Linked DNA regions of Homo sapiens. The protein of the gene in region 3 interacts with the protein of the main gene of each other region in a biochemical or structural test. Each region holds a gene or a part of one and is shown on either strand. Other genes may lie near its edges. The genes, in order: CNTN2, PPP3CA, UBE4B and PGAM5.

Region 1 (7,441 bases), about 190 Mb from region 3:
CTTTTGTTTGCATTCTCTTTGGTAAACAAAGAAACATGGGCTAATCTTGTAGCAAGGAATCATCAAACTAAGAAAGGACTTACTCTAGGATGGTTACCGTCAGGATACGGAGCCCACAGAAACTCCCATAAATGTTCCAGGTTAGCAACAGCCTCTGGGTGGTTTGTTTAGATTGGGGTTGTAGTCCTGAAGGATGAGGGGGTGGCCAGCATGCATGAGGGGATGAAAAGGATGTCTGCCTTCTTATGGATTCCTGAGTCACATCCACCTTTTACCATTTGAAAGAGGATTACTAGAAGTTGGAAGAAATTTACAGGGTCAGCCAGCCCAACCTTTGCCTCTAGGCAGGACTCTCTAACCTTGGACCAGACCCCAGTTCTCCACACCATCCTTAGAGTCATCTGAAAGGAGACTGCCCCACCTCCTCATGGCTCACTCTTCTAGCCAGGAAGTGTCTCCTGCAGTCTAACTTAAGTCCCTCTGGCTTCCCTGGCATATTCTTTGCTCTGGTTCTTCCTCCCCTGCATATCAATCACCTCTTCTCCAACCCCCTGGTTCTGCCCTAGGAATCCCTCCAAAAATACAAATACCACCCACACTCAGGCTTAGAGATTGTCTTTGAAATACGCTTTCTCACCAACGTTTGGCTCAAGGAGGTTTCTGAAGAGGGCACCATGCATCCTCCAAACCACCCCAAATGCGTTGCTTCCCTGGTGACTTTAGAGGCAGAAAGGATGCCTTGGGGTACACCTGTCTATGTACATGCTCCTAAGGAGTAAGTTTGGTCAGCCAGAGACGAGATGTGCAATCACCCCGTTAAGCACAATTCCTCGGAGGCCCATCCCACATGTGTCTCTATTTGAACAACTGCTGGCAGAGAAGGTGCTGGAATGGAGTTGCATAAGGAGTGAAATCTGGCAGGGGAAATGGTGGCGGCGGGAGGCTGAGGGCTGAAGCCGGTGGAGTACACGCGATGAGAGAAGGGAGTGCGAGGAAAGAAGGAGTAGAGGAAGGGAGGAGAGTAAGAGAGAAAGAGCCGGGAATGAGAGCAGACTCCTGGAGTCTGAGGCACTCATCTGCATAAGGAGTGTGCCTCTGCTTCCCTCACCGCTCATGGTGTGAGCACAGTGGTCTCTGCACCTGTGAGGCAGGTGGACCTTGGGTGACTTTGACATCATCAGGTCAGGGGCCCTTTCCTGTCTGTCTCACCTCCTGCCTCCCTCTTATTCGCTGAGGACTTCCACGGGAGATTAGGAAGGACTCTGACCTTGTGGCAAAAGCCCTGTCCATGGTTCTGCAGCTTGGCTAGAAAGGGGTTAACTGGTGGGCACCCTGGGGAGGGGCTTGGATGCTGCTGTCTTTAAGGGGAGAGCTCCCTTCTCCCAAGGCCAGGAGTGAGGGCACCTGTTGTGACCTCCAGGCCATCTCCCTGTCCAGGTGCGATCACAGCAGCCTCTCCCACAGGTGGCCCACCTTTTGCTGCACTCGATCTCCAGTGGCTCATCCGGCCCCTCTGAGTGGGACCAGGAGGTAGAGAGACTCGGAGGCTAAGTGAGCTGAGGCGTCTTTGGCCAGACGGTTGGGAGAGGAGGCCGAAACTGTTGCCCAGACGAGACCAGAACATCACCTGTGCACTGGGTTTCTTGGGCTGTTCCTCCTCCCAGCTCCTTCTGAGCAGAGGGAAAAGATGCTGAAACCCACCTTTCTCCAGGGCTGGGGCCATGGCATGCACAACCCCACTCCCTCCTGGCCTCACTGGACCCCCCCCCCCAGGACACAGGCTCAACCCCCAGGGGTCTGGGGCTAGAGGGTGCCCGTCTCCATCCCCAAGTAGCAGCAGGATTCTCCCCTTCCATAGGCACTGCCTTCTCCATGCCCCGCTGCTTCCCAGACCTGAGAGACCCTCTTGGAGAAGGTGACAGGATTCAGCTCTGGACACTCACTGGCTGGGGCTGCCCCCCACCTCCAGCCCATTATGTAAGCCCCACGGTGCTGGGCAGAAGGATTGCCCTCTCTTTCCAGAACTCCCCAGCTCTGCCCCTTCCCTTCCCCATACCATTCTGGCCCCAGCCCCTTTCCTTACTGGAAAGCCAAACTTTGTGCAAATTCTTCCCTCCCACCAGTGAGGATGGGGGGGAGGGATTTGAGGAGAAGCTAAGGTTGGGAGGGGGAAGGGAAGGAAAGGAATTTCAGCCCGGTAGCCCCAGCCTCTCGCCCTTTGGGATGTGACTGGCCTCAGGACTCTCCTCCCCGAGTCCCAGTTCCTGGACAGGCCCTTGCCCAAACTTGTGCTCCACTCTCCCCTCTCTCTTCCACAGCCCCCCTCTCCATCCAGCTGAAGCAAGACTTTGCAAAGAGGTCACCCTGCAGAGGTAGACCCTGGGTGACCTCAAAACTGGGGACTCCGGCTCAATTCCATGCAGGGACTTCTGGGGCAGGCCAGGGCCCAGGGCCTGGCTGTATGGACTGGTCCTGTCCTGGACCGGGTGCCCAGGGCCGGCCCAGGAGAAACTGCCCTCTCCACAGGCAGCTGCCACTGCCCGCTGGCCAACTGGAATTCCTGGACACACTCCTGGGGTCCAGCTTTTCGGCCAGGCTCGGCCTGAGAGAGCCCTGCGGGATGCCGCCCACGTAGACAGGGCGGAGGGGAGCCCCAGCACCCACCCTGGGGCTGAGGGGAGAAGTCAGAACGGCCCCAGCCTGCCAGTGTTCCTGTCCCTGTTCCCTCCCAAGTTACAAGGGGGATATTTACAGGAACTGAGCCGGGAGCCCCGGCCCATAACAGCACGCAGGGAAGTCCCTGGGTTGGAGGAGACAAAAGCGGTTGGCACCTACCTGGGGCGAGAGAAGGGTGTTGGCTGGGGCAGGTGGATGCTGCCCGAGTCGGTGAGCCGGGGCCGGCCGGGCCGCCAGCCCCTGTCTGGGCCGCTGTCCTTTGGGCCCTGGCGGCCTCAGCCGCTCGCTGTCCGGGTGCGGCGGCGGCCGCGGCGGCGGTGGCGGGTGAGGGCGCGTGTGTGTGAGCGCGCCCGGAGCCACTGCAGCATCTCTGCATCAAGATGTGCTCCTCCCTCTCCCAGGCTCCGCTCACTGGCTGGCTCTGGTCCTCAGCCAACGCTCGGGGGCCCTGGAGATGGCTTCCTTCTGCCCCCCTCCCACCCCACTTCCGTCCCCACCCTCCTGGCTTTACCTCATTTGCTGTCATTTAAGGACCAGGGAGCGAGCCCAGCGCGCGTCTTCCATAATGCATGGGCCGCTCATGGACAGGCCGCGGGGCGCTGTCTGGCCCGCCTGCCCTCCCGATCCTGCCCAGCCCCACTTCTAGTCCCCCTGCCCAGGGCTGAAGGGGCAGGAGAGGGGCGGGGTGAAGAGGGAAAAGAAAGTGGCTCTTACTCCTCAAACCCTGGAGACCCATGGAGCCAAAACTCCTGGTTTCCCCAGAAATCCCCTATCCGAGGAAGAGATCCAAATCAGAAATCCCAGCTTGCTGTGTGGGGCAAGTGGCAGGGAGGGGCTGTCTCTGTTGCCCGGTCCACCCCATGTTCCTCTTTATTGTTTCCCTTGTTCAAAAGTAGTTTGAGCTTTTTGTCAAAATATCTAAATATTAGAGGACATTTAAAAATACATAGTGAAAGTCCCTCAACCACTACTCTTAATAAATCTAAGTACATGCCCCCAGGTTTATTATTTTCGTGTATACAATTACATGGGTTAGTAGGGTTATTTCACACAAATGTGATTACATAAAACAGTAGGATTGGCCAAAGACTTTTAACTGTGTAACTGATCTTGGACACTTTTACGCATCAGTACGTTTGGATCCAATCCCATTTTTAAGCAACCAGCAGTGTGATGTCATGAAAAGCTCCCTGGATTAGGGGTCTGGGTGTCTGAAGCATACTCTGGGCTCCACAACCGACTGGCTGTGTGTGCTTGGCTAGGTGCCCTGCCCTCTCTGAGCCTCGCTGGTACCTGAAGGGATTAAAGATGGACACAGTCCTGCCAGCTCTGAGATTCTAAGTGCTCACCCTTGTCAGCGATGCCTTTCTCCTGCCCTGCTCCGGTCACGTGGGGGAGTGCCCAGGAAGGCTGTGGCCCGGAGGCGGAGGGACCAGCCATCTGCGGCACCAGTCGGCCCTGTCAGGCTGTCACTGTTGTCTCACCCCCCTCTGATCTGCCTGCTGTCCAGCTTGCACAGGCAAGACCGGTGAGCAGTCCAGATGCTGCAACAGCTGGCAGGGCCAGGCCAGCCTCCCAGTTTTAAATGGCTATACCTGTCAAGCCTGGATCATGGCTCCATGTCTCCCTGAGTGGAGGAGGTCCTGGGGACCTGGGCCAGAATGAGAGGGTCTGGAAAAGGAGAAGGAGTCGGGGAGGTTCTGCTGCTCAGCCTCCAAGGCTGGAATGTCTGCCCAGGTCCCACATGCGCTCCCCTCCTTTCCTTCTGAGCCCCTCCAAAGGGCTTGCCCAACTTGAGAGATAGTCTTCTTTGTTCCTGATGGGGAGGACTTGGATTTTGCTAATGATGTTTCTTAAATAATGTTGAATGCTGTTATATAGACAGACACATCAACCCCTTGCCAGGATATCTTTCCCTTCCTTCCCCTGCCCACACTGTCCTTGCCTATCTGTATGTCTGAGGGCTGGCACATTGGCTCTGAGCTCCTGAGGTGAACCTTGCTCTTTGGCACCATTCAAGTCAGCCTGGGCTCCAAAGAGAGGCTCTGCAAGTTCTCTCCTAGCAGAAAACGGCAGGAACAAGTCCTTGCCAAGAAAAGGATGCTATGTCTGCTGCAGGGGGCTGACGGGCCAGGAAATAGGCTGGCCCAGGAACCAACAGTCTGGAAATGCTTGCAAGGATTGCTTTAGACGGAGACAGCTGTCTTTGTGACTCTATTTTAGGACAGCTGCTGCCCTGTGGTGGGAGCTGGGTCTCTGGGGAGGGTCGTTAGCACAGGTGACTTGGGTCTTAAAGACTCTCAGATCTCAATGCAACCAGCATGCTCCATGTGGACTCTGGCAGACACAATAAGTGAAAACAAGAACATTTGCCAAGCCTAGACTTGGATGGGGAGACAGTTCCCAAAGTCTCATCTTCTCACTTGTCTGAAGCTCTCAGTGAAGTCTAGTATGAATGAGTTTGGGGAGATTAGGGGGATCTGCACTCCCAGTCTCTGAGATGCTCCTGTTCCTGAGGAGAGAGTGGGGTGGGCATTTGGGGGTGCAGGCTGAGTTTTGCTTGTGGGGCCCATTAGCTTGATAATAACAGAAATAATATCTGTTTTGAATGCCTCCCACATGCCGGGAGCTGTGCTAAATGCTTTACCTGAATTACTTGCGCAAGAGGTCCATGTTGTTATTATCCTCACTTTTCAGATGTTGCTCAGTAAGAGTAAGGAACTTGCTCAAAAGAAATAGTAAACAAGTGGAACCCTGGGCAACGTGGCGAAACCCCGTCTCAACAAAAAACACACAAAAATTAGCCAGTGTGGCAGTGCACACCTGTAGTCCCAGCTACCTAGGAGGCTGAGGTAGAAAGATCACCTGAGCCTGGGAGGTTAAGCCTGCAGTGAGCTGTGATCGTGCCACTGCACTCCAGCCTAGATGACAGAGTGAGGCCTGGGATCGGCCTCCAGCATCCTGGCTTAGCCACCGTGCCATGGACTCCAGCTACCTACTGTCTGTTCTTTTGAGGTGGGCAAAATAGGGGGCAGAACAGTTTCTTCTTCTTTGGTGACATCCAGAGCCCACAATCTTCAGTGCAGCTGACCATAAGGGCCACCTCTCCTTTCTGTGGCTGATCAATATGACTCCATGTTGTCCAGAGCTGGGACTCCACATCTCAAAGTTGAGTCCCCACAGACTTTCAAACAGGGCAAGAAAGGGCCAGTGAAGATAATCAGGTGGCTAGTCAAATGGCTTATAAATTTGTCCGCAAACATGTGGTGCTCCCTTGGTGGTGGTGGGTGGGGATCAGAAAGCATTTTGAGGGCCACCCAACCCTGCCCAGACCATCTGCTTCTTCCTACTGTAGCCACACAAGATTGATAGCAATGGAATCCAGTGGGTCTCTAACCGATCAAGAAGGGACCTCTAGGCCCCATCCCTGGGGACAAGTGGGGAGGAGATGAGACCCTGCCATGGCCCCAGGATGCTGCAGCTTTGCTGTCTCTTTCCTCACCACTCCCCCGCCTCACCTCTCCTTTCCTGGCCTCTCCCGCCACCAGCATCTTTGCCCAGACCCTTTTCCCAGGAGGCCATGTATTTATGGAGCAGCTCCTCTGCCTGGAATGTAGGGATCCAAGAGCCAGGGGATGCGGTCTTCAAAGTGCCAGTGACCTTTTTGGAAGCAGTGTGACAGTGGTAACAGGACTGTCCATCCACAGCTCTGGGGAAAACTGATATGGCCATAAGGAAAAGCTCTGCAGACAGACCCGTTTGACACCCAGTCCTGCTACTGAGGAGATGTGAGGCCATGGGCAAGCCACATACCTCTTCACCCAGAATATGGGGATGAAGACACATACCTCACTGAGTTGATGTGAGTGTTGAGTTACACGTGAAGTAGCTAGCACAGCAGGTGCTCAATAAATGTCAGTATTTCCCTTTTGGGATTTAGCCTCCCTCATCTGTAAAACAAGGATATGAGGCAGAGCAGTAAGGGCTGCAAGTGGTTGGGGTGGCTCTGGATTTGTAGTCAAGAGAACTGGACTCTGTCCCAGCTCTGTCACTCCTACCTGGATGACTCTGGGCAAGTAACAGAATGACACTTAATCGCCCAGATAATCCATTTCTTCACCAGTAAAATAGGAATGATCCTACTCCTATCTAGGATGGTAGTGAGGATATGTGAATTAAACATAATGGTTTTTAAAAGCACTTTGAATTGCAAAGTGCCATATCAAATACTGATGGCCATTCCCTCAGCTATGCAGTCCAAAAGGTAGGGATTATCTCATCAGTCCGTATTCTCCCAGTCCCCCACCCTCCTGTTTAGCACAGTGCCTGGTGCATGGTGGAGACTCAATAAATATTTGTTGACTGGGTGAATGAATGAAGGAGAGTAGCTATAGTAACCATTCAGAGGATGAGGAGAGAGGGAGGTAGGATGTGGGTGAAGCTTTCAGTGGGGGTGGGTGGGTGCATCTTGAATTGAGCCTGGATGGACAGAGAGGAGGTGGGGAATGTGTTTCTGGCATGGGGGCATGTGGTGTGGCAGGAGCCAAGATGTGGGGCCTGGGAAGGCCATGATTTGTGTAATGCCTGGAGAAGCCAAGTTGACCTAGCAGGGGTGCTGGAAGGAAGATCTCAATGCCCTGTCTGCATTTGCCTTCCTAATTTCATGTGAGGGCCCAGAGGGGTCTGTGGCCTGGAGGGGCCTAATTATTCTCTTTGCCATTTCAACCCAGGGCTCTTGCAGCTCCTTTTTCAGGCTTATAATAGA
Region 2 (7,024 bases), on a different chromosome or scaffold from region 3:
CCAGAGGCGAGGACAACAGAGATTCCCTCCTGGTTGCTGAATGCAAATCAACAGAAGCTAACAGTGAGATTTTATGTAGGAAACTATAGTTTCCTTAGTCTTCAACTCTTTGAAATGAAAGTATTTCTGTGTTAGTGAGACAAAGTATATCCCGGCCCATGTGAGAGACTGGAAATATTCATTCAGAACAAAAATAAAATGGAGCTTGGAAAGGCCCAGCTGGCTTTCTTTAACCAGAAGTCATACAACCACATCTGGGGTAGCGCAGCTTTAGCGGTCTTCTGTAAGGATGGGACTAAGAGCAAGTGCCTCACTATACTGCCACTCTGTTGGTGTGGAGTCCAGTACTGAGCTTTTCTAAAAACACTCACCATGCAGACATGCCATCAGGAGAGGTGACTCATGAGCAGCCTGTACTCGTGATGGGCCTGAAGATTTTTTATTGGTATATACACAGTAAGTTATCACCTATCGGGGTGTACAGTATGTTTTAATCTCTGTTCTAATTCCTAATCTTATACATTTTTATTCATTTGAATTTGCACATTGTGAAGACTAATATGGGCCTCCCATATGCTTGTCAAATGGCTCTCCCCTCAATTTAGTATCATCACCTGTCTTCCTGAGAAAGAAACCATCACTCACCTTTGAGGAAATCAACCTATACACCTTGTGACAATAATCCATTAAAAGTCAAGCACTCCCTATGGGAAGGCCACTTCTGCCAGTTATGCTTCTGCATGCTGGCTACCGAGCAAAATCCATATAATGCCAGTTAATAAAATACAGCACTTCAAAAACTCACAGGAAAACACACTTCTACAAAGACTGGAGCTTACAAGTCAAGACTCATCAGACATTTGTGTACTGATCACGATTTAAGATTGACAAAATTTCAAAACATAAAGGAACCCCATAATTTAGAAATTTAAATCCATCTTATCCTTTGTTATTTCATTCCTGTAACAACTATGTATCAAATGCCTATTCTACAGCAGGCCCTGTGCTAGAGCTAAAGACACAAAAGTAGATAGAACTTCTGTCTCTAGGACTTTCCACCTCCTGGGGAGGAGAGGCAGACAAGGAAACAAGTCATCACAGCAACATGCTCTTATCAAGGTGTCCTCTGTGAGAAGGAAGAGGCTCAATTCCTTTATTCTAAGTGAAGGTGTCAGGAGATGCAGGTCTCAAAGGAGGTAACTTCTGAACTGAAGCTCGAAAGAAGAGAACTGAATGATCAGGAGAACATTTGTTATCCCAATAATCAGGCCCAGCAGAACAGGAATGTGTGTAACTTTAATAGCATTAAATATACATGAACCAACAATGCCAGATTTATCATTTTTTAAAATCAAATTCCTTTGTAAAAAGCAAACAAAAAATAAAACAAACTTGAATTCCTGACTCAGGTTCCATCTTTTTAAGAATATATCTTGCTTTTAATTTAACTTGATAAAACAGCATAACTTACAAGATGTTTTAAAAACAAATGTCAACGGATGGCTCAAAGCCCACTTGTGAGAATCTAAGGAGACAGCAGCGTTAGTGCCACCTTTTTCTTAACTTTTCATAGCCCATGTATCTTTCCACTGGATGGCATCCAATGACATTTTGGGGGCCAGAGAAGGGAAGGAGGTCATGTTGGAGAAGGCAGCATTTCTGGATTACAGAAGCATTATAGGAAATGATATATTGAGATGTAAACAGGGAAAGAGGTTTTTTCCAATTTGTTCTTTTTCATGAAATTTACCAGGTCATTTTATCTTCAAGTCCAAATCTAGACAATAACTAAAATACACAAATCATCCAATAATCAAACACTCAGTGATTAACATATTTTTTCTCATTTGTCAGAAATTGACCAGCCTAAAGGGGAATACAATAAAAACTGAAAGACAGCTGTCAGGTTCAAGCAAATAAATTAAATTGAATAGAACTTAGCCTTTTACATTCAGCAGGGACAAAGTGAGTTCAAGTGACCGAACAGAACAGCTCTCATTCTAATTGTGTAACCTTATTAATGCCTCCTTCTCATACTCCATGCCCTGATTGGGCTGGAGAAAGAAGCACTCCAATTCGCCAGTCACCATACAGAACCAGTTACAAATGGAACTTAATATAATACACTCAAAATAAAAACAATTTAGAAGGCTTCAGGAGGCACATGAGAATTTTACAATATCCATCTCATTCAAAAGAATTTATTCAGTGCATTTAATAAGCAAGGCATTGAGCTAGGGACCAATAAGACAATGACCATTTTTTCCAAACTAAAACTCTGAATACAAATATTAACAATTTTATGCAACTTCCAAGTATATGCAGCAACCAAGACACATAGTTTAGACACTGACATACTAGAATTTCCAAAACATTCTGATATTACATAGAAAGAACTGGACATTTTAAATAAAAACTACTACTAATTCTTCCCCAAAGAAAGGAAAACTGGGACAATAAAATCACCACAGAAAGACTCTAAGTCTAAGAATCTTAGAGCTGATGAAAATTTTTTTAATTTAGCTCCATATAAATAAAACTCTCTCTTTGAACATCAACCATCATTCTTCCGGTTTCACAGTTGTCAAAAGTACCTGAAATTGACAAACATTGTAAACTAGTATGTCATAATATTGAGATAGCTTTTATAAATCCCTGATATCTATTTGTTTCCCTCTTTTGCAGACAGACACAAGCAAAATTTCCAGTTGCAAGAGACAGAAGTTCACAGACAGGTAGACCATTTTTTAAAATAGAGTCATAGTATATTTTGCTGTGAGACAAAAGCATGGATAAGGAAAACAAAAAGGACAGCAAAGTTCTATTCCTCTCTATGATGGTCTCAAAAAGAATCTACCTGAATTCCAAAAACATAGCATTTTAATAATTTATTGCCACTTTGTCAGTGAGGGCTTTTATTTTTTTAATATCTAAAGCTTCCACTACCCGAGTGCATATTTGTTAAAACGGATTTGAGATACCAGCAACTGGGCTAGGTCATAAAGTTGATAACCCATCTGATTTAAGCCATTATTCAGAACCCCTAACCATGGAGGAATACACAATTGTTATTTCACTTCTCATATGAAATATAATTGATGGATTCATATAAAAGATGGAATTATTGTAAAATAAAATGATTTTAAAATGCTGAAAATGTCAAGAGTACTAAAGACTTAATTTACAAACTGAAATCCTATTTCATTGCCTACATCAGTCCTACCTAATGACTGCTTTAAAAATAGGAATGCAACACCTCAGAATCACTGGCTGATATTTTCACCTGAGCCTGCTCTAGAAATTAACAAAATCATCAAATCTGAAGATTTTGTTTGTCAAACCAGAGCATCAGTGTGGGTCATTAAGTGGAGTTCAGAAAAACAGGCTTAAGACAACATCCTTCAAAATGAAAGTAAATAACATTCTTTTGCAGGAGAGTATACTATTCTATTTCTGTGTATATATTTACCTGAACAGAAAGCAATGTTTAACAGTATTTCTTTATAAACCTCAGGCCAAGGTCAGACTAAATTATAATATTTATCACCAGAATTTGATGTCTGCTAAAAACAGAAATATAAAAAGCTTCCTCTCCTAATCAAACTATTTTACATAGTTAATTATTTAGTAAAACAAAATGCGAAATGAAATGTGAAGATATCTTAAATATACCAAAAGAAGTGGCCATTTTCTTTTTTTCTTTTTCTTTTTTTTTTTTTTAAGAGATATGGTCTTGCTATGTTGCCCAAGCTTCCACCTCAGCATCCCAAAGTGCTAGGATTATAGGTGTGAGCCACCACACCTGGCCAGTGGCAATTTTCAAAAATGTTTTCAAGCAAGAAAAGCCTCTTTAATAAAGAAAATAATGTGTTTACACTTACCTGTAACCATTCTATCTATTCTGTCTCCACTTCTTTAACTATAAAAATAAATGTCATCATAAGCTACTCTTGACCCAAGGCACTCATGGCTTTCAATGCTAATGGTTCTGACTATTCTCAGGTGACCAGAAAATACATAACACGTGTCATTTCTAATTCTGTGTTAGCAGTGACTGAATCGCCATTACCAGGCAGTGGACAAAGTGTTAACCACACACTCCCCATTTCCCATTTGATTATCCTTCGGTCCTCACAAGTTGACAGTGGATACAATTACTCCCCTTTTATGTATAGAGAAAGTTAGCCTGTGAAGTTATAACATATACCAGTGGAATTACAGAAAGCTGAAGTTCAAGGTCTCACCATATCCCTCTTGTATATCAAGAGACTGCTACATCAGAAAGTTGCTGGAAAAAAATTGACAAAATGATTTTTAGTAATTATCAAAATTCTATATCATGAATCACCACCATTCTTCATAGTTCTAGAAGTATTCAAAATGGTAATTTAACCATATTTGCTAAAAGGAGAGTGAGTATCTGCAAAAATGCTGTTTTCCAATGAGGTCACCCTAAATGGATTCTTTATTTGGTGTCATAATTAGTTTCAAATTTACACATAGCTGACACAAAAAAAGATAAGGAAAAGCATGAGAGGCCAATTACAAAAGTTATAAATGAATGGTCTATCAAAATTATATTTCATCTCGCTAAAATTACAAATAAAACAAAGAGACAAATAGATTTTAAAAGGCATATTTTTAAACAAATCTTAGAGTAAACCTCATTAATTAGATTCTAGATGTTAATTTTTTCCTATTTTAACTGGATGTCTTAAGATAAACTGTCCATTTAAAATAAGGGTTCTATCCCACACTTCTCAGAAAAACTATTATCTTCAAAATGTTGATTATTCTAATTGATGGCATTTTAGAATCACTGGAATTCCCCTGAATCCCAGTCTCAATTGTTGCATTAATCATTAAATTTACTGAATGTTTTTACAACAATGCACTTGTGTTATATTCACTTTATAATAGTCCCAAAAGGAAATGTTAATAAATAGACCAACCTAACTCGTAACGAACAGGATGAATTTGCATACTGTTCACTAAGTATTGAAAAGAATTTGTTCTCTTGGTATATTAACAATGCTGGAACTATGTTGTTTATACTTTTTGGTTATCGGACCCCTTTCTTCACATCCAATGCTGATGTAAACTTCAGCCAACAAACACTGGTGTTTTTTCACAATAAATTTAAATTCATGATATTGAATTAATAAAGTTTCACTATACTCAAATTGAAAACCAGATACATGAAACTCAACTGATGGTAACAAAATGTCAGTAAAATAAATTCACAAGCTCTTCCTGGAACACCACAAATAAATGACATTATTTACTACTCTGTTGCATCAAGGTCTAAACACGACAGTTACTACGAATGTGACATATTTGTTTTCTTTTTAAGTAGTATTATCAGTCTCACCCAGCTAGAAATACTAGTGGCTGGAATCCTTATTTACTTAATAATACTTAACTAGCATCTTCTTGCTTCTATGATCTTAGCATCTTTCAGAATTCTCCTATGTGTACTCTGTCTACATGAAGTACGTAAGCTGGCAATACACCTGAAAAACAGCTCATTCTCTATGGCCAAAAGCAACCTTACACAAAGCACAACAACGCATTATCTATAGTTTCTGAGAGATTCCACAAAACTCTTCTCAGAAATTTATCCCTCAACAGCCTCCCATAGTTTCTAAAATTTCTACCATTACCATCGGTTTGAGTTAAGGTAGAAGTCCCATCACAAAATACTTGGAGATGGGAACAGAGGGAAGGTAGGTTAAGAGATTTAACAAAGCCAAATACTCATTATCACATAGGGTTTAATTTCCTCTAAGTATTTTTAACTATCACATAGCAAAGTTCCATGACCAATAGGGAATGCTAGGGCCAGACAAAGCATTCTAGGCAGGAACAGAGAGAAATGAAGAAAAGCCAAAGTTTGAGACAAGGCCTGTAGAGTATCACTAAGAGAAAAATCAGGACGGGGGTCAAGGGGAGGAAGACAGTTATTCTTCTATTTATTGCCCTCGGTTTGCTGTATGTATCTTTAAAAATATAATGTAAAGCAATAAACGGACCATATTATTTTGATTTCCAGCAAAGGTCATTACCAAGATGTTTTCTCTGAATTTTTCTACTTTCCATTGTTTTAATCCAAGAAGAGTCAAAATGATACAGCACTAGTTTTGCTAACTGAAGTAACTTTCTCTCCTGGGATAATCTAAACAAATACTTTTCATCTCCACTGCCATCATTCTCTTTCATTTTTAAGGTTTAGAAAACCGATCAGGGTCTCTGAATACATGCTAGCAGATTCTATAAACCTCAAAAATAACATAGTTGAGACAGACTCAACCTACGTCTCTAAAGCTGCATTCTAAAAGTACAATTAAGAAAACAGTCACATCATATTACTACAAACCACAAGCACATCTTTATTTGTAAATAGCAATTTCTTATACAACAAAAGCCAGATGACACTAATAAATATAACTGTAAGCAAATGCCATGGCATGCCATGGTAATAACAATCTGAATATTTATTTTTGTATGTATATATAGTAAATAATACTACACATACTTCGTAAAAAAGAGAAAACTTATGGAGCACAAATACTTCCTCAAAGATAATTTCTTTTCTGTATTAAAGAATGAGTTAAATAGCCATTGAGATGAAGTTCTAACAAAATTTCAAGTAAATAATGGTTTCTAAACTCCATATTATCTAATTTTTGCAAATTAAATCACTTGTTAATATGTTTCACATCCAGCATACGCGTACTTTCCATTCATTCAGTACGTGTATACATACTCAAGGGGAAATATTATTTCACAGAAAGCTAATAATCAAAATAGATTATCTCAAATAACTAATAATAAAAATCTTATGTATGACAAAAGGTTGAATCCAACCTTGTATAATGCCTTTCATGCCAATAATATTCTACAAGAAAACAGGATAAACAATAACAGTGTATCCACCTTAAAATCAGGATTCATCAACAAAACTTCTATAAACAAAATTTCACATTTCACATCTCACATCAGGATCTCTATCAAAACAAATGCA
Region 3 (7,024 bases):
CTGCTTCTAAAATTTCATCTAGCAATATCTTAACCATAGAGAGCCAAAAAATAATAATCTAGAAAAGAGAATTCCACTTCCAATGACTAAATCCACCTCCCCAAATATGATATATGCCATACCCTGTATGACACTGATTAACACTGTCAACAAACATTCCCTTCTCCTACGTAGTTCACAGTTATTTTACTACCAGTAAGATGTGCAAAGAGAACCACACTGACCTAGACAAAGAGCTGGCACCAAAGGAAGCCACGCTGCAGAACATGGGGCTTGTTCCTGGATTGGAGCCAGTGTTTAGCAAGAGATTTCTGTCTGGTGACCGTGCTGCTGCAGCAATTGGCTGTGATGTGGCTGTCAGACTGGCAAATGGGTTTTCATCTCTGGTCTGAGTGGACATCATTAGCACTTCCATTAAAATCTGGCCAATCAAGTCCTTAAAATCGGAGAATACTGTTGGAAAGGCAGAACAAAGAACAGGTTACACACAGTTCGAACACAGGTTACACAGCCCTTGAATAAGCCAGCTGACCCCAAATGGTTCGATGCAGTATCCTGGATTAGATTCTGGAATGGTAAAAGGATATTAGTGGAAAACCTAAATAAAGCCTTGTGTTTAGTTAGTAGTAATTTCTTAGTTTTGACAAATGTACCATGGTTATATAAGATATTAACGTCAGGGGAAACTGGGTAAAGTATATATAGGAACTCCCTGCACTAACTGAAACTATTCCAAAATTAAAAGTTTATTAAAAAGAAAGTTGGGGTACAGTCATTGAGAGTTACCGCTGATGTATATTAATTGTAAAAAGAAGCTACTCCCAACTATAGAGGTTACTTTATTATACTACAAATGCAACTGGGTTAATATTTCTTAGTCTAGATATGTTTTATAGATAGTAATAAAACTATTAAGTCCAAGGTTCAAAAGATTTTATGAAGGGTCCAACATCTAGTCACCATGTGGCTTTCAGGAGCAAATGCTACATTCTAGCTTCCTTCTTATTCTTTGCAGCTCCCAGTTGATTTACTGTTGGTCTTTAGATACATTTTAAATACCACTAAACAAAAGTTTTAACTCATGGAAATTTTATCTGATTTGGTTATTTAAAATTGCCACTTACATGTGTAAGACAGAGTTGCCACTTAACATGTGTAAGACACTTGTTTTAACAAAAGTTTTAACTCATGGAAATTTTATCTGATTTGGTTATTTAAAATTGCCACTTACATGTGTAAGACAGATTTGCCACTTACATGTGTAAGACAGAGAATCTTAAGATTTATAATAAGAATAACAAGTAGCAGAGTTTCAAATACATGGTCTGCTCCATTAGCAGAGTTAATAAGTAAAATCAGAAATAGTCTTATCTATCCTCCAGAAATACAAAGGACTTTTTTTTTCCCTCCTCAGAAGATAGGCAGCATAGAAAAGAGAAAGGTGATCTCCTTGATATTCACGCATCCATTTAAAATCTATCTATTGAGGGACTATTTTGTGCAAGATATCCTTCTAGGGATACATCAATGAGTAAAACAGACAAAAATCCCTACCATGAGGGAAGTTACATTCCAGTGATAGGCCAAAAAAACCACTCCAGCACACCTCCCATACCTCTTCTGCGTTCCAAATGACTACTGTAAAGAAAAAGGATAGTGCCCTATGATGCTGATATCTTGCTAAGAGTTTTATTATTTTGTTACAAGCTTGGCCTCTTAAAGTGGAATATCAGAAACACAGCAAAATGTCATTATGTTCTATCTTGCTAAGCAATTTAACCAAATAGACCAATTCCACCGTCTATACATGGCTTCATAGGCACTTAAAGCAGGTATAGCTCATACAGAACACTTCTCTCAGGATCCCTGGAGACCACCCACTATATCTATACTTCATAAGAGGAGGTAAGGCCAGGCTCGGTGGCTCAAGCCTGTAATCCCAGCACTTTGGGAGGCCGAGGCAGGCAGATCACGAGGTCAAGAGATCGAGACCATCCTGGCCAACATGGTGAAATCCTGTCTCTACTAAAACTACAAAAATGAGGCCAGGCACGGTGGCTCATGCCTGTAATCCCAGCACTTTGGGAGGCCAAGGCGGGCGGATCACGAGATCAGGAGATCGAGACCGTCCTGGCCAACATGGTGAAACCCTGTCTCTACTAAAAATACAAGAATTAGCTGGGTGTGGTGGCGCATGCCTGTAATCCCAACTCGGGAGGCTGAGGCTGGAGAATTGCTTGAACCCAGGAGGTGGGAGTTGCAGTGAGCCAAGACTGCGCCACTGCACTCCAGCCTGGTGCCAGAGCAAGACTCTGTCTCAAAAAAAAAAAAAAAAACAAAAACAAAACAAACAAAAAAAACTACAAAAATTAGCTGGGCGTGGTGGTGCACGCCTGTAGTCCCAGCTACTCCAGTGGCCGAGGCAGAAGAATCACTTGAACTCGGGAGGCAGAAGTTGCAGTCAGCTGAGATCATGCCACTGCACTCCAGCCTGGTGATAGGGTGAGATTCCATCTCAAAATAAATAAATAAATAAATAAATAAATAAATAAATAAATAAATAAATAAAGAGGAGGTAATGCTCTAAGCACCTTCTTACTACAAAGAGAAAAACTTCAACCCTGAGAAAATGGAGACCATTAACCTATTTACATAGTATTATAGAAATCATGGAAATGAAAAATAAGTTATCGATAAGATCAGTGGAAAGGGAAGAAAGTGGCTAAACAATTGTGTCCTCATCAAGAAGTATCCCTGTCATCAAAAATACAACCCAAGAGCAAGATGGAGTGAATGTGGATAACAGAGGGCAAAGATCTCACATCTTATTTTCTTGTCGAGTACTCTGCAGTAAGACTGCTGAGCTAGATTCCTACCTTCTTTTGGGTTCTGCTTAAACTGTGCAGAAAGAGAAGAAAGAAAGATGACATCTCTGTCCCGGTCCTTCCAAGAGACACGGAAGATCTTACAGACCAGCTGTAAGGCCTGCTCTTCAGACACTTCAGGGCCCGAGGAAGGCTCCTGGTGAAGAAGAAGATTTGCAGGTTAATTTCAAATAAGAGGTATGAGTTAGGTGTTTCAATAGGAATACGTTATTCTGATTTAATTCATTATTAGTGATGATATTTTAAAAATGCATGAAACCATTCACCCACTGATTAGGGGAAAAGTAAGCCTATTCCTATAACATCAAAGTTACAACATCTAAGTCTCATGAGCTTACAATACAATCTATGGGGAGCATAAAAGAGCAAAGATGGCCGGGCGTGGTGGCTCACACCTGTAATCCCAGCATTCTGGAAGGCCGAGGCCAGTGGATCACCTGAGGTCAGGAGCTCAAGACCAGCCTGGCCAACATGGTGAAACCCTGTCTCTACTAAAAATACAAAAATTAGCCAGGCGCGGTTGCGGGCCTGGCTACTCGGAGCTACTTGGGAGGCTGAGGCAGGAGAATCGCTTGAACCCAGGAGGCGGAGGTTGTGGTGAACCAAGATCACGCCATTGCACTCCAGCCTGGGCAACAGAGTGAGGCCCTGTCTCAAAAAAAAAAAAAAAAAAAAAAAAAAAAAAAAAAAAAGAGCAAAGTCATTATCAAAAGTCACCAAGGAAAAATATGTGACAGAGGATGTACATATCCTATCTATTTACTTTTCTGAATTCCATAGGACCAGGTTAACACTCCAGGTGCATGACCAATTTTCCTCCAGGAATTTTTCAAAATTGTAACATTTCTCATTACATACCACCACAGATAAAACAGCATATAAAAAAGAATTTTGTAAACATTAAAGAACTATACAAAATAAAGCACTGCACCACTAGGAGGCTACAGTGCAACTTCTTATTTTTTCCTTTGTTTGTCTTTATTTTTGTTTACAGTGCAACTTCCAATAATCATTAACATGTGTTGCTAAAGGATTCCTAATAATTTACTAAACAGAAAGTGATGTAATTATCTATATTAATACACACACACACACACACACACACACCCTAAATGCAGAGCACTAAGCTCAGGTGATATTCAAATATAAAGGCTTCATGTTTTCCAAAACCTTCTACTTGCGACTAGATTCTACATATTCTTGCTTCAATTCCCAGTCATTTTCCTCAGAATACTGCTAAAGATGTGATGATCTACTTGCTTAAAAGCAAAAGACCAGGCCAGGCGCAGTGGCTCACGCCTGTAATCCCACACTTTGGGAAGCCAAGGCAGGTGGATCATAAGGTCAATAGATCAAGACCATCCTGGCTAACACGGTGAAAACCCATCTCTACTAAAAATACAAAAAATTAGCTGGGCGTGGTGGCGGGCGCCTGTAGTCCCAGCTACTTGGGAAGCTGAGGCAGGAGAATGGTGTGAACCTGGGAGGCGGAGCTTGCAGTGAGCCGAGATCGCACCACTGCACTCCAGCCTGGGCGACAGAGCGAGACTCTGTCTCAAAAAAAAAAAAAAAAAAAAAAAAAAAAGCAAAAGACCAACAGAAAGAATTCTAATTTGCTCTAAATTAGTTCCTATTACAACCTAAATTTACTGATAAAATCATGGCCCTGAACCAAAAACAGATGGATATTATCAGATCAAAGGACTGAGTTACACTTTCATGAATAAGGGTAATCTAGGTTATTCATTTTTCCTCAAAAGAATAAAAATAATCACCTGCCTAGGACTTCCTGATTTCGGGTGGCCCCAATCTAACAGACTCTACAGATACAAGACATGAAATGTGTTTATTTCTATTACCTGTACCAAGGGCTTCATCGCTTACCAACCTTATCACTGAGGCTCCGCTTTTCTCTTCGATCATTTTCATCAACCTCCATGTTTTCAATTCCTGAATCCACATCCACCTGGGACATGCTTAAAGTACAAAAGACAAACAAGCCTTTTACCTTTTATAAATCCGCACAATGTCACTGTAGCTGCTGGGTGAGAAAATGTTTTAAAATATCAGTTAATCAGGAAAGGAAAATGATAATGGTCCATCTTTTTTCTTATTAATTTTTAAGAGTTCTTCATAAATTAGGATCTAAACAATTTGTCTCTTATACATGTTGGAAATATTTTTCCTAAGTTGTCATTTTCTTGGGCTTACTTTTTAAAAGTATATCATTGGCCGAGTGCAGTGGCTCACGCCTGTAATCCCAGCACTTTGGGAGGCCAAGGCAGGTGGATCACCTGAGGTCAGGAGTTCGAGATCAGCCTGACCAACATGGAGAAACCCCATCTCTACTAAAAATATAAAATTAGTCAGGCGTGGTGGCACATGCCTGTAATCCCAGCTACTCGGCAGGCTGATGCAGCAGAATCACTTGAACTCAGGACACAGAGGTTGCGGTAAGCCGAGATCGCACCATTGCACTCCAGCCTGGGCAACAAGAGCGAAACTCCGTCTCAAATAAATAAATAAATAAAAGTATATCATTAAAGTAGGTTACCTATATATAGTATTTTAAAATGACATAAAATTCAACCAGGCCAGGTATATTGGCATGCGCCTATGGTCCGAGCTACCTAGGAGGCTGAAGCTGGAGGATCACTTTAGCCCAGAAGTTTGAGGCTGTATGCACTATTACTGTGCCTGTGAATAACCACTGTATCCCAGCCTGGGCAGCATAGCAAGACTCTGGCTCTAAAAAAAATTAAATAAACATTTTTAAAAATTTAATTGAGAAAATAGGCCAGGCACGATGGCTCACACCTGTAATCCCAGCACTTTGGGAGGCCGAGGTGGGCGGATCACAAGGTCAGGAAATCGAGACCATCCTGGCTAACATGGTGAAACCCGTCTCTACTAAAAAATACAAAAAATTAGCCGGGCATGGTGGTGGGCACCTGTAGGCCCAGCTACTCAGGAGGCCGAGGCGGGAGAATGGCCTGAACCCGGGAGGCAGAGCTCGCAGTGAGCCAAGACTGCGCCACTGCACTCCAGCCTGGGCGACAGAGCGAGACTCCATCTCAAAAAAATAAAAAATAAAAATAAAAAATTTAATTAAGAAAATAAAAAACTCAACTGAAGTCTTATTATAAAAACTGGTTAAGTACATATCATTTATCCCCGATTGAACAATTGCCCTAGCACCATTTACTGGAAAGATCATCCTTTTTACATTAATATGAAAGCTCCTATGTCACGTGTCCAATTTTCATTAACGAGTGGGTCTATTTCTGGAGACTCATTACTGTTCTGTTAGACAATTTGTCTGTCCCTGGCCAATACCACTTTGTCTTAATTACTAAAACTTCACAAATCTTGATATCTGCTAGGTCAATGTCTCCACTTTATTCTTCTCCTTTAAGAGGTTTTGCTATCCTTGGCTCTTTCCTCTTCTACACATACTTAGGAATCAGCCTGAGGAATTCCTTAAAAACCCTCCCGGGATTTTGACCAAAATTTTTTTCACTCTTAGAGATCAACTTGGGGAGAAGTAATATATTACTGAGTTTTCATTACTCTCCAAGTATTAAGATCTTCTTTAAGGTCTATCAATAAGCTTTAGTAATTTTCTCTATAAAAATTTTATACTTCTTTTGCTAAATTTATTCCTAGGTACCATATGTTAATACTTTTTAATGAAATTGTGAATGGCACCTTTTTAAAAATTACGTTTTCTAACTTTTTGTTGCTGGCAGACAGGAATGCAACTGATTTTAAATATACACTTCTTATAAGCAACTTATTTATTTATACATAGAAAGTTTACATGTAAATAATTTTTTCTTTTTTAGACAGAGTCTTGCTCTGTCACCCAGGCTGTAGTGCAGTGGTGCAATCTTGGCTCACTGCAACCCCTGCCTCCCAGGTTCAAGCAATTCTCCTGCCTCAGCCTCCCAAATAACTGGGATTACAGGCACGCACCACCATGCCCGGCTAATTTTTTTTGTATTTTTAGTGGAAACAGGGTTTTACCATGTTGGCTAGGCTTGTCTCGAACTCCTGACCTCAAGTGATCTGTCTGCTTCGGCCTCCCAAAAGTGCTGGGATTACAGGTGTGAGCCACTGTGCCCAGCCAACATGTAAAT
Region 4 (7,024 bases), on a different chromosome or scaffold from region 3:
AGGGAAGGAGAGGCCGGAGCCCTCAGGATCGAGTGATCTTGTCGGGAGGCATGAACCCCGTGTCCCCGAGGGTCCTGAGCGCAACTCGGCCGTTGGGTCGGATCACCAGGTGGGTGATGCTGCCATTATTGAGGGAGAGCCGGAGCCAGCCTTCAGGAGGAAACTGCAGTGCTCTGGGGAGAGAGAGAGAGAGAGAAAGAGCACGTTAGAGCCAGGGGGCTCTGTCCTTAAAACGGGCTGAGCTAGGCCGGGCATGGTGGCTCACACCTGTAATCCCAGCACTTTGGGAGGCCAGGCGGGTGGATCACAAGGTCAGGAGATCGAGACCATCCCAGCTAACACGGTGAAACCCCATCTCTACTAAAAATACAAAAAATTAGCTGGGCGTGATAGCAGGCACCTGTAGTCCCAGCTACTTGGGAGGCTGAGGCAGAAGAATGGCGTGAACCCGGGAGGCGGAGCTTGCAGTGAGCTGAGATCGCGCCACTGCACTCCAGCCTGGGTGACAGAGCGAGATTCTGTCTAAAAAAAAAAAAACGGGCTGGGCTAGAGCCAGGGGACTCTGTCCTTAAAAGAGGCTGGGCCAGGCTGTGCCAGGGGGCTCTGTTCTACAAACAGAGGCTGAGCCCCTCAGAAGTCTCAGAGCAGCCTCAGGGCCGGGGTACACATCAGCCGAGCCGCTCCTGTCTTCAGTCGGGGCTTCTCGGGGAAGATCTGGCTGGGATCGACGTGAATCGATGACTGGGATCGACATGAATGGAGCCATCACACTTGGGGACCTGCCCTCTTTAGGACAGGGGCCCAACCCCAACTCAAGATTTGCACAGATCAGAACAACGCTGACTTCTTACGAGGAAACACAGTTTAATTTCTGCTTTTCCCATATAAAAGCAGGGAGCAGCCAGTTAGTGCAACAGGTCCCTTTCTGGGAAAGCAAAGAACGGAGATGGGATCTACCCGCCGTGGCATCTTCATGCACTTCTTAGGCACAATTCGCATTTGCGGAAAAGCTCGGAGTTGCCTTCATCGCCTCTGAGCCACCCACCGCCCTGTCTCAGTGGGCCGCATGGCCACCCTCACGCTGCTTCCCGAGCCTCCTCAGGGCTGCCTGGCGGCACCGGCCGGAACAGCACAGCCATATTCTCGTGTCCAGGTGCACGTGCCTGGCCCTCACCACTGTGTGGACTCAGGTCGGCTCCACTCTCCCGCCCCGGTTATTTCTGTGCATTTTTAGCATTTGTGTCACCTCGGGGTGACTGTGTCATGGACACACAAGGTGGTGGTGGCAGCATAGAAGCCACCCATATGGCTCATTCACAAGCACAGACAGGAGGCAACGAACGACTCACAGCAAACAGGTACTCACTTAGCCTGAGGCCACACCACCCGGAGGCTCCAACCCCCAGAAAAGCTCTATCTGGTCTGGAGCCAAGCTTGAGAATCTCGGCCCGTACATCCTCGACTTTCTGGGAGCTGCTGCTCTTGACCATGGTGCTCCCAGCAGCCCCAGCCCTGGTGACAGGCCCAGGTGACAGACGGGCAGAGACCAGGGCCCAGCCTCACACGGCATCACTGACCAGTGCCGTCCTGTCCTCCCACCACAGGACTCGTCACACTCAAGAGGGCCCCCTCAGCTGCGGAGCCCACACACACATTTCCTAATGGATCCAGAGAAGAGGCAAATTTGTTTCAAATTTGCATTTAGTGAGATTTGGCCAACCCTTCTGACTGTTTCAGGCATGTAACCGTAGAGCTGGCCCTGCCCCCCAAGGGGCCCTCTAACGTGGCTGCAGCCCTGGAGCTCCTTAAAGAAGTGGCTGATTGCAGGGTGGTGGCAGGGAAAACGCAACCTGAACCCGGATCATTCTGTGGTGCTGAGAGTGGGGCACCAGAGCAGGTTGAGGGACAAGGGCCCCCCGAGGGAGCAGCCCGAGCAGCAACGTGACTCAGCTGTGGCCTCGACCCAGAGGGGAGCGGACACCCCGAGCCGTCACGCTGGCACACGGGTGGGAGCGCCCACAGATCAGCAAGTGAAAGAGGTCAGGACCCCAGAAGCACAAAATCCCCAGCGGACAACAGCGGCGGGATGCTGCCAGTGGGATCCAGCCGGAGGCAGAAGGTGGTTGGTCGAGTTTGAGGGGAAACAGGACGTTCAATTACAAAGGGAAAACAACCAGGGCAGTGCGGACGCCCAGCATGCACCGTACCCAGGACCCCCCACCCAGCACGCACCCCACCCAGGACACCCCCACCCAGCACGCACCCCACCCAGGACCCCCCACCCAGCACGCACCCCACCCAGGACACCCCCACCCAGCACGCACCCCACCCAGGACACCCCCACCCAGCACGCACCCCACCCAGGACACCCCCACCCAGCACGCACCCCACCCAGGACCCCCCACCCAGCACACACCCCACCCAGGACACCCCCACCCAGCACGCACCCCACTCAGGACCCCCCACCCAGCACGCACCCCACCCAGGACACCACAGGGGTCCCTCCCTGTCTGCACCACCCTTGCCCAAAACAGCCTTATGAGAAGCTCCAAGTAACACGCCACCTACCGCGTAACTGACTAGGACTCGCGGGAAGTGGACGCCCGGGGGCTGGTGAGGCCTGACTAGGGTGGCATCGGCAGTGGAGGAGGGTCTCGCTCGGCTTCTTCCTCATGCTTTTCTCTAAGTCTGAAATTATTTTAGACCACGCCCAGCCCAGCAGCTGCCTACCTGCACACGATGTAGCGGATGACGTTGGCGTGACAGATGAAGATCTCGTAACTGTCCTCCTCCTGCCTGGCATCTGCGCGGTGGATGTAGTTCCGGAAGGCGGCCTCGATCCGGGCTCCGTCTTCGTAATACTGCTGGGGGCAGAGTGAGGAGCCGTCAGTGCGGAAGTGCTCGGGCAGGGCGGGTGTCAGGAGGACAGACCCCATCGCCGCCCGGGGAAGCCCGTGGGACGGCCGGGCACGTGGTGGATGGTGAGCCCAGCAGGGCCGCTTTGCCCAGGGAAGGCGAGGGTGACACAGCTGCCCCCCGGGGAGGTTTTTACCACAGCTTCCGGCTTCCAATGAGACACGGGCGGGTCTGGCTCGATGGGGGCGCCTTCCCGCAGCAGATCTGTGCTGACTTTGCAGACGCCTGCAGAGAAGCACAGCGAAGCGCTGGGTGAGGCGGCCCCGCCGGCGGAGATGCTGTGACCTCCCGGTGGCCAGGAGCTCAGGCCGGGGCCCTGCCACGAGCCGCCCACTGCTGCAAGCATGGAGGCCCCGCGCGCAGCACTCACCTGGCAGGTGCCGGCTGATGATATCGGTGGTCTCTATGGCGCGCGTCATAGACGAATGGACGATTTTATTAAACTTCAACCCCAAGCTTGCCAGGCGGAGCCCAGTGAGTTCAGCCTGCTCCCGACCTGGAAGGTGAAAGGCACCTGAGTGCCGCACCTGCACCCCCTCCTCCACCCTCAAACACCCCCTCCTCCGCCCGCAAACACGCCCTCCTCCACCCTCAAACACCCCCTCCTCCGCCCGCAAACACCCCCTCCTCCGCCCGCAAACACGACCCCTGATCAGGCAGCAAGCTCAGCAAGCTCAGCCGATGGCTCCTGCCCGCCCGAGGCTTGGGCCAGAGGGGCCGGCACTCAACTGTCTTCACCCCCATACAGGAAAAAACATGCATCTGATTCCACCAATGGAGCAGCAAGCAAACCGGATGGTGGCTGGCGCTTGGTGGGGCCCAGGGGTGGTTTCTGGGTCCCCCCTTGTCACCCTCACTCAACTGTGTCCAAAACCTGAGCCTCACAGGCCCCCAACCACGCGCCATGGCGGAGGCCAACACAGCGGGACCTAAACACCCCAAGCTGCTATGTGGGGGCCGGACACCAGTGCAGATGCCTTTTCTCTTGTGAGCTTTTGCATCCAGGTGAAAACGCCTCAGGAAGGCCGAAGCCACTGGATGCAGCCACACCTGCATCTGTCACTCCACTTTCTTTGTGCACAAGCAGCCAGGACAGCTCTGGGGACTGGGGGGCGGCGTCTGTGGAGGACAGCCCTGCACATTTTTACTATCTGAACTTTTAGTATGTGCATGAACAGGCACTATCCCATTCGAAGAACTTTTCAAAATGTAAACTCTACCTTAGCCCACCCTGCATTTCCTTCTCTAGGCAGGCATTTCTTCTACAGATCCACCTGCACAGGGACACAAGGACAAGGTGGAAGGACCCTCCTGGACGCTGTCTATGCAGCATCTGCCAGTGGGGACAGGCGGGATCCTGTTGCTCAGTCCCGCCTGTTCAACAGGGCATTAAGAGGCAGAGGCCAGGCCGGGCGCGGTGGCTCACACCTGTCACCCTAGCACTTTGGGAGGCCAAGGCGGGCGGATTACGAGGTCAGGAGTTTGAGACCAGCCTGGCCAATATGGTGAAACCCCATCTCTACTAAAAATACAAAAAAAAAAAAAAATTAGGCTGGGTGTGGTGGCTCACGCCTGTAATCCCAGTACTTTGGGAGGCCGAGGCGGGTGGATCACAAGGTCAGGAGATAGAGACCATCCTGGCTAACACGGTGAAACCCCGTCTCTACTAAAAATACAAAAAAATAGCTGGGAGTGGCAGCGTGTGCCTGTAGTCCCAGCTACTTGGGAGCCTGAGGCAGGAGAATTGCTTGAACCCAGGAGGCAAAGGTTGCAGCGGGCCAAGATCACGTCACTGCACTCCAGCCTGGGTAACAGAGCAGGACTATGTCTCAAAACAAACAAACAAGCAGACGCCAGGCATCAGGCCTGTGAGTGCCACAGGCCGCAGAGAAGCGTCTTTGGCAGCAGGTCCAGGTGAGCAGCCGAGGGCACAAGCCACGCCGCTTTCCAAGGCATCAAGCAGGTATAAAATCACTGCTGGGATATGCACTGCATTTGGTCTCATGCAAACAAGATCTGTCCAACATTTGCTAAAAGTTAAGGGCTTTTTTTTTTTGAGACGGAGTCTCACTCTGTTACCTAGGCTAGAGTGCAGTGGTGCAATCTTGGCTCACTGCAACCTCCACCTCCCAGGGTCAAGCAATTCTCCTGTCTCAGCCTCCTTAGTAGCTGGGATTACAGGTGCCTGCCACTGCACCCGGCTAATTTTTGTACTTTTAGTAGTGACGAGGTTTCGCCCTGTTGGCCAGGCTGGTCTCGAACTCCTGACCTCAGGTGATCCACCTGCCTCGGCCTCCCAAAGTGTTGGGATTACAGGCGTGAGCCACCGTGCCTGGCCAAGGTAAGGACATTTTTTTTTTTTTTGAGACGGAGTCTCGCTCTGTCGCCCAGGCTGGAGTGCAGTGGTGCGATCTCAGCTCACTGCAAGCTCCGCCTCCAGGGTTCACACCATTCTCCTGCCTCAGCTTCCCGAGTAGCTGGGACTACAGGCGCCCACCACTGCACCTGGCTAATTTTTGTACTTTTAGTAGAGACAGGGTTTTGCCGGGTTGGCCAGGCTGGTCTCGAATTCCTGACCTCAGGTAATCCACCTGCCTCGGCCTCCCAAAGTGCTGGGATTACAGGCGTGAGCCACCGCGCCCGGCCAAGGTAAGGACATTTTGAAAAGCTTGTCTTCTGTCCAAGTTCAGCTGACAGTTACTGGTAATAATGTGTGATTCAGGGGTGATGGTCTCGGACATGGGCCCCAGGAGGCCCAGTGCCCCAAGCACTTTCAAGAAAGCTGACCAAGGGGGTCGGCGGAGGACCTGCACCCAGTCACATAACCAAGGCGCCAGCAGATATGCACCTGGCCACATAACCACGAGGGTCCACAGAGGATCTGAACCCACCACATACCCAGCGGGGTCAGAGTGCGGTCCTTCTCCAGGGAGCCATCCACGTGGTACTGGGAATGCCTGATGAGGAAGATGTGCCGCGTGGCCTTGGCTTTGTAGTGGTCCAGCTTGGACGCCAGCTCTTCTTCCCCAGATTCCACGTTCCTCTTCCGCACGTTGATCAGAGACAGTGGTTCTCGCCTGATGTTGAAATACAAGATATGTCCTTGAGACCTCTGTTCCCAAGTTTGAGTTTTTCTGACAAGATGTTATTTCCAAATTGTCAGACTATTTGGGAAGAGCATGGAGAGAAGACAAGGCCCTTGGCACAGCCCTGGGGAGGCCTCTCTGAGCATACCGCCACTCTCCCTCCCACAAAGCTAGTGCCAGGTCTGTTCTGAGTGATGCGCTGGAGAGCAAAACAGACAAGCAAAGCCCTGTGCATCTTCTTCTCTAATGAGAGGCAGACAGTGAACAGCAGGAGACAGACTACCCCAAACGCAACTGTGGTTACGGAGAACGCCAGGCTAGGAAAGAGGACAGCGGCTATCGGGGCGCAGGCGGAAAGTGTCCACGGGGCCAAGATGGGCCTCCCTGACCATGATGCTTCAGCAGAGCCTAGAACTGCAATGCCCAACAGCAGCCACTAGCTATGAGGATGTTTCAATTCAAAATTTAAGCAAAATTAAATAAAATTAAAACATCATGTCCTCAGTCATACTAAGCACATTTTAGACCCTCAGGCCGGGTGCAGTGGCTCACACGTGTAATCCCAGCATTTGGGAGGCTGAGGTGGCCAGATCAACTGAGGTCAAGAGTTCGACACTAGCCTGGCCAACATGGTGAAATTGCACCTCTACTCAAAATACAAAAATTAGCCGGGCTTGGTGGCACACGCCTGTGATCCCAGCTACTTGGGAGGCTGAGGCAGGAGAATCGCTTGAACCTGGGAGGCGGAGGTTGCAGAGAGCCGAGATCGTGCCACTGCACTCCAGTCTGGGCGACAGAGTGAGACTCCGCCTCAGAAAATAAATAAATAAACAAACACTCAGTGAGGAAGAAAACATTCCCATTATGAAGGTCTGTTCCAGAGCTGCTGGAATCTGAAAAAGAGTGGATCCCAGCACTTTGGGAGGCCGAGGTGGGCAGATCACTGGAGCCCAGGAGTCCAAGACTAGCCTGGGCAACACAGGGGGACCCCGTCTCTACAAAAACATTAAAAAATTAGCCGG

Evidence for each region.
Region 1: of the proteins of UBE4B (region 3) and CNTN2, one has a biochemical effect on the other in vitro, tested with the Homo sapiens proteins (one study listed by BioGRID).
Region 2: of the proteins of UBE4B (region 3) and PPP3CA, one has a biochemical effect on the other in vitro, tested with the Homo sapiens proteins (one study listed by BioGRID).
Region 4: of the proteins of UBE4B (region 3) and PGAM5, one has a biochemical effect on the other in vitro, tested with the Homo sapiens proteins (one study listed by BioGRID).

The regions. Positions count from the first base shown.
Region 1 is NC_000001.11:205,038,789-205,046,229, reverse strand, and holds the start of CNTN2 (contactin-2 precursor), read right to left. Parts: upstream 3,019-7,441; 5' UTR 2,836-3,018; intron 1-2,835. UniProt on the Homo sapiens protein: In conjunction with another transmembrane protein, CNTNAP2, contributes to the organization of axonal domains at nodes of Ranvier by maintaining voltage-gated potassium channels at the juxtaparanodal region. May be involved in cell adhesion.
Region 2 is NC_000004.12:101,337,503-101,344,526, forward strand, and holds part of PPP3CA (protein phosphatase 3 catalytic subunit alpha), read right to left. Parts: intron 1-7,024. UniProt on the Homo sapiens protein: Calcium-dependent, calmodulin-stimulated protein phosphatase which plays an essential role in the transduction of intracellular Ca(2+)-mediated signals. Many of the substrates contain a PxIxIT motif and/or a LxVP motif.
Region 3 is NC_000001.11:10,098,945-10,105,968, reverse strand, and holds part of UBE4B (ubiquitin conjugation factor E4 B), read right to left. Parts: intron 4,862-7,024; coding exon 4,774-4,861; exon of another isoform or gene 4,763-4,773; coding exon of another isoform or gene 4,745-4,762; intron 3,022-4,744; coding exon 2,877-3,021; intron 454-2,876; coding exon 225-453; intron 1-224. UniProt on the Homo sapiens protein: Ubiquitin-protein ligase that probably functions as an E3 ligase in conjunction with specific E1 and E2 ligases. May also function as an E4 ligase mediating the assembly of polyubiquitin chains on substrates ubiquitinated by another E3 ubiquitin ligase.
Region 4 is NC_000012.12:132,713,827-132,720,850, reverse strand, and holds part of PGAM5 (serine/threonine-protein phosphatase PGAM5, mitochondrial), read right to left. Parts: intron 5,994-7,024; coding exon 5,815-5,993; intron 3,413-5,814; coding exon 3,287-3,412; intron 3,142-3,286; coding exon 3,053-3,141; intron 2,865-3,052; coding exon 2,731-2,864; intron 2,090-2,730; coding exon of another isoform or gene 2,041-2,089; exon of another isoform or gene 1,684-2,040; intron 174-1,683; coding exon 23-173; 3' UTR 1-22. UniProt on the Homo sapiens protein: Mitochondrial serine/threonine phosphatase that dephosphorylates various substrates and thus plays a role in different biological processes including cellular senescence or mitophagy. Modulates cellular senescence by regulating mitochondrial dynamics.